Linked DNA regions of Homo sapiens: region 2 is reported to be linked to region 1. Evidence: microRNA targets listed by miRTarBase, many of them from high-throughput screens and not tested one by one. Region 1 holds a microRNA gene; the other region holds the end of a gene's coding sequence.
The links. Region 1 holds the annotated microRNA hsa-miR-34a-5p (UGGCAGUGUCUUAGCUGGUUGU, at 2,450-2,471, shown strand). A microRNA usually pairs through its seed, bases 2 to 8, with sites in the 3' UTR of a target mRNA and lowers its output. Matches are read on the target gene's strand: a 7mer-m8 pairs with bases 2 to 8, a 7mer-A1 pairs with bases 2 to 7 and ends in A, and an 8mer does both.

Region 1 (4,067 bases):
GCTGGGGCTGAAGCCAGGAGCCACCATGAGGCCAGATTCCTGCCTCTTGCACCCCATCTCTGGATGGGCCAGCCCATCCCACACGCTTCTGCTGTGCTTACAAAGTTCAAGTGTGCTGTGGTCACTGTTTCCATGTGGCTATCTGTTTTCAGGATTCTGGGGTCCCCTGCCCCGTCCAGTCTTGGCTGGGAGTTGAGGGAGGGAGGAAGCTTTGAGTTTTTGCTTGTCTCTGCGCTGACCTGGGGACACAGCAACTGCAGGATGTACCTTTGGCATCATCCCAGAGCTGCCAAGTCTGAACTTCTAGGTTTGAACCTGGGAATCTGCATTTTACCAAAAGCTCCCCAGCCGATGCTTACACAGTGAAGCCGAGACCTGCCGCTCTAGCTGATGAGCATGCCCTGCTGGAATTTACCTTTGGGTTAAAATCTGACATATTAGGAGCTTTTTTTTTTTTTTTAAGACAGAGTCTCGCTCTGTCACCCAGGCTGGAGTGCACTGGTGTGATCTGCAACCTCTGCCTCCCAGGTTCAAGCAACTCTCCTGCCTCAGCCTCCCAGGTACCTGGAACTACAGGCACATGCCACCATGCCTAGCTAATTTTTGTATTTTTTTTTTTTTTTTGGTAGTAGAGATGGCGTTTCACCATGTTGACCAGGCTGATCTCGAACTCCTGATCTCAAGTGATCCACCCACCTCAGCCTCCCAAAGTACTGGGATTACAGGTGTGAGCCACCACGCCCGGCCTAAGAGCATTTTTCCCACACTAAAAGATAACACAGTCCAGCTGGCTTGCTTTTTAACCAGAGCATTACAGGGTCACCTGTTTGGAGGAGGAGGACTGAGGTCAGAGCAGGCTCCTGTCAACTCCAACGGGACATTTCACAGTGGCCACAACAGGCTGACCTCTGTGTCCTGTGTCCTGCTGACTGTGTGTGGAGGCCTCAGAGGGGCTCTTTCCCCCTTGCACAGAGAGAGACAGCACTGGCTCATGAGCCTGCTTTTTTCTGCACTACCTTACCTGGAACTCAAGTTTCTGGGACTTCCCATGCTGGGGTAGAGGTGACTTTGATCCTCCTGAAAACAGTCCTTCATGCCCCCACACCCACATGGAAGAGGAACTGTTCCGTGGTGGTCCGTATCCAAAGTCACTAGATCTTGGCCTGGCATAGTGGTTCATGCCTATAACCCCAGTATTTTGGGAGGCCGAGGCGGAAGGATCACTTGAGCCCAGGAGTTTGAGACCATCCTGGGCAACATGGCAAGAACCCATCTCTATAAAAACAACAACAACAAAACAACAAGAAGTCAGTAGATCTTAAAGCACTAGATCTTAAACCCTGTGATGGGCAATTTCCTTGTCAATTTAGCGAGGCTGTGATACCCATGATTCAACCAAACGCTTGCCTGGGTGCTACTGTGAGGTGCGTTGTACATGTGGTCAGCACTGATGATCACTGGCTGTAAGTCAAAGGTTCTCCTCTGCGAGGTGGGTGGGCCTCATGCAATCGGTTGAAAGGCCTCAAGAGCAGAACCGAGGTTTCCCTGAAGAAGAAGAAATCCTGCCTGGGGACTGCAGTGTCAGCTCCTCCGGGGAGCTTCCGGCCTGCTGGCCTGCCCTCTGGATTTCAGACTTGCCTAGCCAGCCCCCACAATCACGTAAGCCGATTCCTTGAAATAAACTTAATCTATATCTCCTTCTGGTTCTGATTCTCTGGCAGAACTCTGATCCTCTCCCTAAACGGTGCCCGGGACGGGGGAGGAGTTGGCGCTACTTCATTGCTTCCCTTTCACGCAGACATGCTGACTTTTCAACCACTGTCCTTTTCGAATTTTTTCTCTTCCAGGGAAGTGCTGACTCTTTTTCTCCTTGTCAATTAGTCCTTTTGGAATCTGTTACTGGTCTCAGCCTTCTCCTCCATCCTCTCTCTTTCATTATTTTTATTTTCATTTTGTAGAGACAGTTGCTGAAGGTGGTGGTCTGGCTATGTTAACCAGGCTGGTTTTGAACTTCTCGCCTCAAGTGATCCTCCTGTCTTGGCCTCCAAAATTGCTGGGATTACAGGTGTGAGCCATCACCCAATTTTTATTTTTAGAGACGGGGTCTCACCCTGTCACCCAGACTGGCGCAATCACAGCTCCCTGCAGCCTCAACCCCTGGGCTCAAGCGATCCTCCTGCCCTGGCCTCTCCAGTAGCTAGGACTACAGGCACGCATGTCACCATGCCTGGCTAATTTTTAAAATTTTTTTGTAGAGATGGAGTCTTGCTAGTTGCCTGGGCTGGTCTTGAACTCCTGGCCTGAAGCGATCCTCCCACCTCGGCCTCCTGCATCCTTTCTTTCCTCCCCACATTTCCTTCTTATCAACAGGTGCTGGGGAGAGGCAGGACAGGCCTGTCCCCCGAGTCCCCTCCGGATGCCGTGGACCGGCCAGCTGTGAGTGTTTCTTTGGCAGTGTCTTAGCTGGTTGTTGTGAGCAATAGTAAGGAAGCAATCAGCAAGTATACTGCCCTAGAAGTGCTGCACGTTGTGGGGCCCAAGAGGGAAGATGAAGCGAGAGATGCCCAGACCAGTGGGAGACGCCAGGACTTCGGAAGCTCTTCTGCGCCACGGTGGGTGGTGAGGGCGGCTGGGAAAGTGAGCTCCAGGGCCCCAGGAGCAGCCTGCTCGTGGGTGCGGAAGGAAAAAGGCACAGGGGCTTGGTGTGGGCGGCTTTTGGCTGGGAGAAGTTTGCACGTAGGGAGAATAGTAGCCAGTGTTTGCAGAGCACTTACTATGCAGGAAGGCCTGTCCTAAGTATTGTAAGTGTATTACATCATGTACAAGTGTCTGTGATTAACCCCGTCTTGCAGAGAAGGAAACAAAAGTACAAACAGAAAATGTAACTAAGCATGCAATTAATAAAAAGGGACCAGGTTTTGAACGCGAGCAATCTGGCTCAAGAATCTGCGCCCAACCACCGGCTCCTGTTCTTAGAGATGAACGTGGAGTCCTGGAGACTGCTCAACATTGTGACTTGACTGTGAGCGTACGCGCTCCCTGTCCCCAGGAGACAGATTTCCAGTGCAATCATAGAAAGTGCCTGTGTGGGCTTCGGGAGATGTGTCTGCCTTGGGGAGAATTTTCCTTTTCAGCTAGAGCCAGGCCCAGGATGTTGACGTCAGTGAGACGCTGGTGACGTTCTCTGCTCCAGTGGCTGATGAGAAAAGTTCCTCCAAGCCAGCTCAGTTGAGAAGAATTAAGTTCTCTGGGTCCCACTGGCTTCACCTACAGATGCCAACTTTGAGGCCAGTGAACTGTGAGGCCAGCTGGGCTGATTGCCATGGCAACAGGAATTGGACCAAAGTCACCGGAGGATGGAGAGGGAAGACACAGTGGTGGCTTCCCCAGGTCTTGGACCACAAGGCACAGCCGTGGCCTCCAGGAACCCTGAGATAACCCGTTAGTGGGTCCTGCACTCCAACAGAGCTCATGCAATCAGCCTCTGGTCCTCACCCTCCTCCCATTGGTGTCGTTGTGCTCTCTAACATTGACATTGAGCAGTGAGTGCTCCAGATCTTGTTCCACTGATTTTTTCCACTGTTCTCCAGTCTAGCACTTTCTGAAATTCATCCAAGCCTAAGAGGTGACGCCAAACGTAAGTGTCTTACACCTCGGACCCCATGGACTAAGACAAGCCTCTGGGGTCCATGTGGCACCAAGGATGGGGCCTTCTAGTACCTTTCACACAGGCCAGGGACAGCACCTGCTGCGACCCCCACCCCCAGCCTCTGCTGCTTCTCCCGTTGCCCTTCCAGCCACTGCCCTGGGCACCTCCCCTGCTCCCGCCTCCCTGCCTGGGCCCATCTTTCTTTGCACCTCACCAATTGCGGGGCTTCCTAGTGCTGGAGGGGAAGGGAGCCTGCTTCCATTCTCACCACTCTGAAAGAAGACCCTGCAGAGAGGTTTTCTGGAATTTGGAGCCTAACCTTGGCCTTGACACAGTCCAGATGAGAAGGCCGTCCCCCAGTTAAGCCAGCCCTCCCTCCCTCTCAATGCTGGAGAGGAAACCAGGCAGCTGGTTGCTT
Region 2 (4,058 bases), not on the chromosome of region 1:
GGGAGAGGAGGGGAGAGGAGGGGAGAGGAGGGGAGAGGAGGGGAAAGGAGGGGAGAGGAGGGGAGGGGAGGGGAGGAGAGGGGAAGGGGAGGAAAGGAAAGGAGAGGGGAAGGGGAGGGGAAGGGAAGGGTGCCAAGACTGGAAGCTGCTGTTGCCAAAGAAAAGGCAGTGCCTGTATTCCTCTGTGTCCTCAGGAGGCCTATAATAACCAGAACCGCTGTGAAACTGGGGTTGATGCTTGAGTGGCCCACAGTTGCTACAGGCTATGTATTCTCTGCTAAACAGCTCAATCCTGGACCTATCTCTGTGCTCCCCAGGCCTCAGATCGGCTGGCTACGAGTAGGCCAGTTAAGACTATGAGGGAGTCCATATAGCTTGTCAACCGCCCCCCTCACCTCCCACTGGTTGGGAAGAAAGAACTCACGCAAGGCATGTGGCCGCCAAGACGGCAATGCTACACTTAGTACATGATGGGTGGTTACATACTAACTTCCCATTTAAAAAAAAAAAAAAAAAAAAGGAGTATTATCCTTAAAGCTCTTGCCAGTCAAGCACCAACAAAAAAACTGGTAACATGCACTCTGCTGCACTTGCATGGTATAGCTCTTTATATAAGCAACGGCTTATGTTATTAAAAGAAAACTACCCACATACATCTTAACGTCTAGGATACATAACAGAAGGTAACTAGTTATATTGCATGGTGAAAATCCAGGTGATTTAAATTTTGTTATTGTTGCTCATCTTCATTTTCTAATTGTTTTATGATGAATATGGATGACTGATATGAACAATATTACTAGAGCATAAACACCAAAAGGAATCCATTGTTTCTTACAGAACTCAAGTGCATAGCTGGTCTGTAAGTGTTCAGCTCACAACTCTGCCTTTTCTTTTCTTTTTTTTTTTTTGGAATGGAGTTTTGCTCTTGTTACCCAGGCTGGAGTGCAATGGTGCGATCTCGGCTCATTGCAACCTCCGCCTCCCGGGTTCAAGCAATTCTCCTGCCTCAGCCTCTCAAGCAGCTGGGATGGCAGGCATGCGCCACCATGCCTGGCTAATTTTGTATTTTTGGTAGAGACAGGGTTTCACCATGTTGGTCAGGATGCTTCAAGAACCCTAAAAGCATTGCTCCCTCAACAAGAGGACAAGGGCCACATTGCACTTATTTGGTAGCTATGTAGCTCTAGTACAGCATGGCAGGCACTTGGAAGGATCAAGATCAACACGCTAATCAATTCAACTGCCAGAAAGTAAGCCATTCCCCTATCAGTCTTTTTCATAAGGAACATGGATTCTTTACTGCCTCTGCAGAGTCTGTTAGTTTTTCAACGTATCTTCTGTGAAACTAGTGTTCTCTGGACAATAGGTATGCAAAAACCAAAAAAGGTACGTGTGTGGGAGTCTGAAAGACAGATTTCTTTCCTAAAGAGCTTTGCAGAGCTTTGACTCTGCAAGTATTCATTGTGAATCATAATAGGAGGATACCATATATAGCTTTTCCCATATTTATTTAGCCATAAAATACTTTTCTCCAGGAACAGCTGCAGGGACTAGTACTCCCAGGAATACATTTTGGGAAATGCTAATCTATCTTTCTGGTGCGCAGCTCTTTGACCTACCACCCACCAGGCAGAGTGGCTGCAAACGTGCCCTGTCCCCTATAATGAGGGCGGGGCAGCAGGCCCTAGGCAGGGCTGTACAGAATGAGGTTAGGTGACCACGCAGCACACTCAGACTTCTGTCATCGAGTGAGCTCAGCCACAAATGAGGTGACTGAGAGCCCAGAAAACAAATAAGGAATGGTCCAATAAATATAAATATTCACAACTGAACATCAGGTGACATTTTCATTTATTCTGTTTACAGATGCCACTTAGTTACACTGTTTTTTTTTTTTCAGTCTCATCTGGGTTGGATCCAAAGACATTCAGAGGCATGGTAAGAGGCAAAGCATCAGACATCTCATTGGTGGCAGGTACTTCCTGACTACTGTACCACCTGCTGTATCCTTCCCCACCTCATCACCCCCAAAGCCATTTAGTGCCAAATGCTACAGTAAAAACCCAATGCATTTACATAAAATAATGCCTAACTGCATATTTACATTTTTTAGAAAAAAAATCCCATTAAGCTCTTCTAGAAAGTTATGGCAGGAAAGGTAAGGACCAAGGCTATGAGCAAGCCATATGTGGAAACTTAAAGTAGATGAGCACTGAGTTTCTCCATAGTTGGAAAAAAGCCACACTGAGCCCACTCTTCCTGTGAGGCAAGATGAGACCTTCCTTTTATACCCTGTTGAGAATCTCAGGTGGACAACGTGACTGCATGAGTGTTGAAAGGCAGCTTGCCGGCTTAGTTATCACCTTGCAGAGGTAGCTATGCACTACACAGCCACACTGCCCAAAGCGCGCTACTAAGAACACTGGTCCTACAAAGGGCTCCTTGTAAGAGAACTTTAGGAATCACAAGTATTTAGAAAATACTATACACTATCATTTCCTTCCTAGAGATCCGCAATGCACATTATCACATGGAAGTTTCCAGAAGTTCTTTCATAAAGAAATGCTTAACTTTATTTAACCTAGAGTTTCCATATCAACCTGACCTTGGAATCTCTTACTTTTTTAGGTGACACATATCATAGAACATATTCTGAGAAATGCTCCTCTATGGCTTTGAGAAAATCTTTGCAGAAACAAAATAATAATAATTTTTTACTTAAAAAAATTAAGTAACTAGTAGGATCAAGTGTTGGTCAACAACAAAGAGATCAAAGAGTCAGGAAGTCCACGTCATAGACCCCCACTTTCTAATTCCAGCCTAGCACTGACGCCATAAACTGTGCCTGCCTGAAAACAGGCAGAAATCAGTTGTCCATGATTTCTCTCTTTAAGGCTTGAGTTGTTCGGCATGGAAATCACAGTACAGAATTGAATGAGGTCCATCAGGAGCCCATATTTCATGTACAGAGGCCAAGCGTCTTCTCTTGTCTTCTGCTATAACAGTGAAATCATTAAACATCTATTGTTGCTTATCACATGACTATGAGGTTTTTCAAATAGACCTGACAAGCCCTTTGTTTCTAACAAAAAAAGGGGATGATAACTCGTAGAGCTTCTCATTATTTTCAGCCACAACTACACAGACCAAGAGATCATAATACAAAGCTTTTGGCCAAATAATTTAAAAGTATTACAGCAAGGACAGGGAAAGATGAAAATCAATGACATTACTGGAATGATGTAAACATTTCATCATCTGCATAATACATAATTTTTTATTCTTGTTTCCAGGGAGTTTCACATGATATTTTAAAGCAGAAGCAGATTCTCCACATGTAGAACTTGGCAGACAATAATAACGTATTATCTATGCCCTGCTGGGATACAAGCACGCATTCACACCTCAATAGCAATCCTCGCAAATCGATACTGCAGAGAGGCGGGAGGCCTCAGTAGCACTAAGCCCCTCTGCGCTGCAGGCTGGCTGGACAGCATATCCAGCAAGCCTGTCAAGCTAACAAACCCCAGGGCTTCTCCACAGCCAACAGCCATGGAAAAATCTCCCTGAGTCACAAAGCCTAGGAGAGTTCTGGAGCAGTGCAACGTCACACGCGGCAGAGGGCCTGACCACAGCCCTAGAGTCAGAGCTTCCTGCCCAGCCACGGGCTCTTCCCCCGCCGGGCCATCAGAAGAGGCACGTCCTGGCTTCTGCCTCTTCTCCCTTTTCTTCTTCTCTTTCTGTTTCAGGATCTTGCTCCTGAATGGGTCACTGTGTTTGGATTCCTGGGGCCCACAGTAATGCCAGTCCTCATGGAGCTGGAGGAAGTCCTCCTTGGCTGGGACACAGATCATGGTGTGAGGCTCGGGGCTGCCCTTGCTGAGCAGGGACAGGCTGACCCAAACCAGGGCCCTGGGGAAGTGGCCCAAGATGGACAGGCAAGCCTCTCTGGTCAATCCTTGCTGGCCTCTGCCGGGAGCTCGCCGGCCTCCCCGACTATCCTCAGAACTGGGCCCACACCAGGCTGACAGTTGCTTCAGTAATTTTCTACTCCT

Region 2: miRTarBase lists POP1 as a target of hsa-miR-34a-5p. The part of its 3' UTR that is shown has no 7-base or 8-base seed match.

Annotation. Positions count from the first base shown.
Region 1 is chr1:9,150,139-9,154,205 of GRCh38, reverse strand. It overlaps MIR34A (microRNA 34a), which reads left to right and starts at 2,429; the gene lies at 2,429-2,538. MIR34AHG (MIR34A host gene) reads left to right here. Exons shown (of 2, transcript NR_132742.1): 2 at 2,371-4,067. RefSeq lists a silencer at 2,384-2,620.
Region 2 is chr8:98,157,615-98,161,672 of GRCh38, reverse strand. It overlaps POP1 (POP1 ribonuclease P/MRP subunit), which reads right to left. Exons shown (of 16, transcript NM_001145860.2): 16 at 1,838-4,056. The coding sequence ends at 3,402. Among named protein-coding and RNA genes, the nearest start is that of NIPAL2-AS1, 17 kb to the left of the region's middle.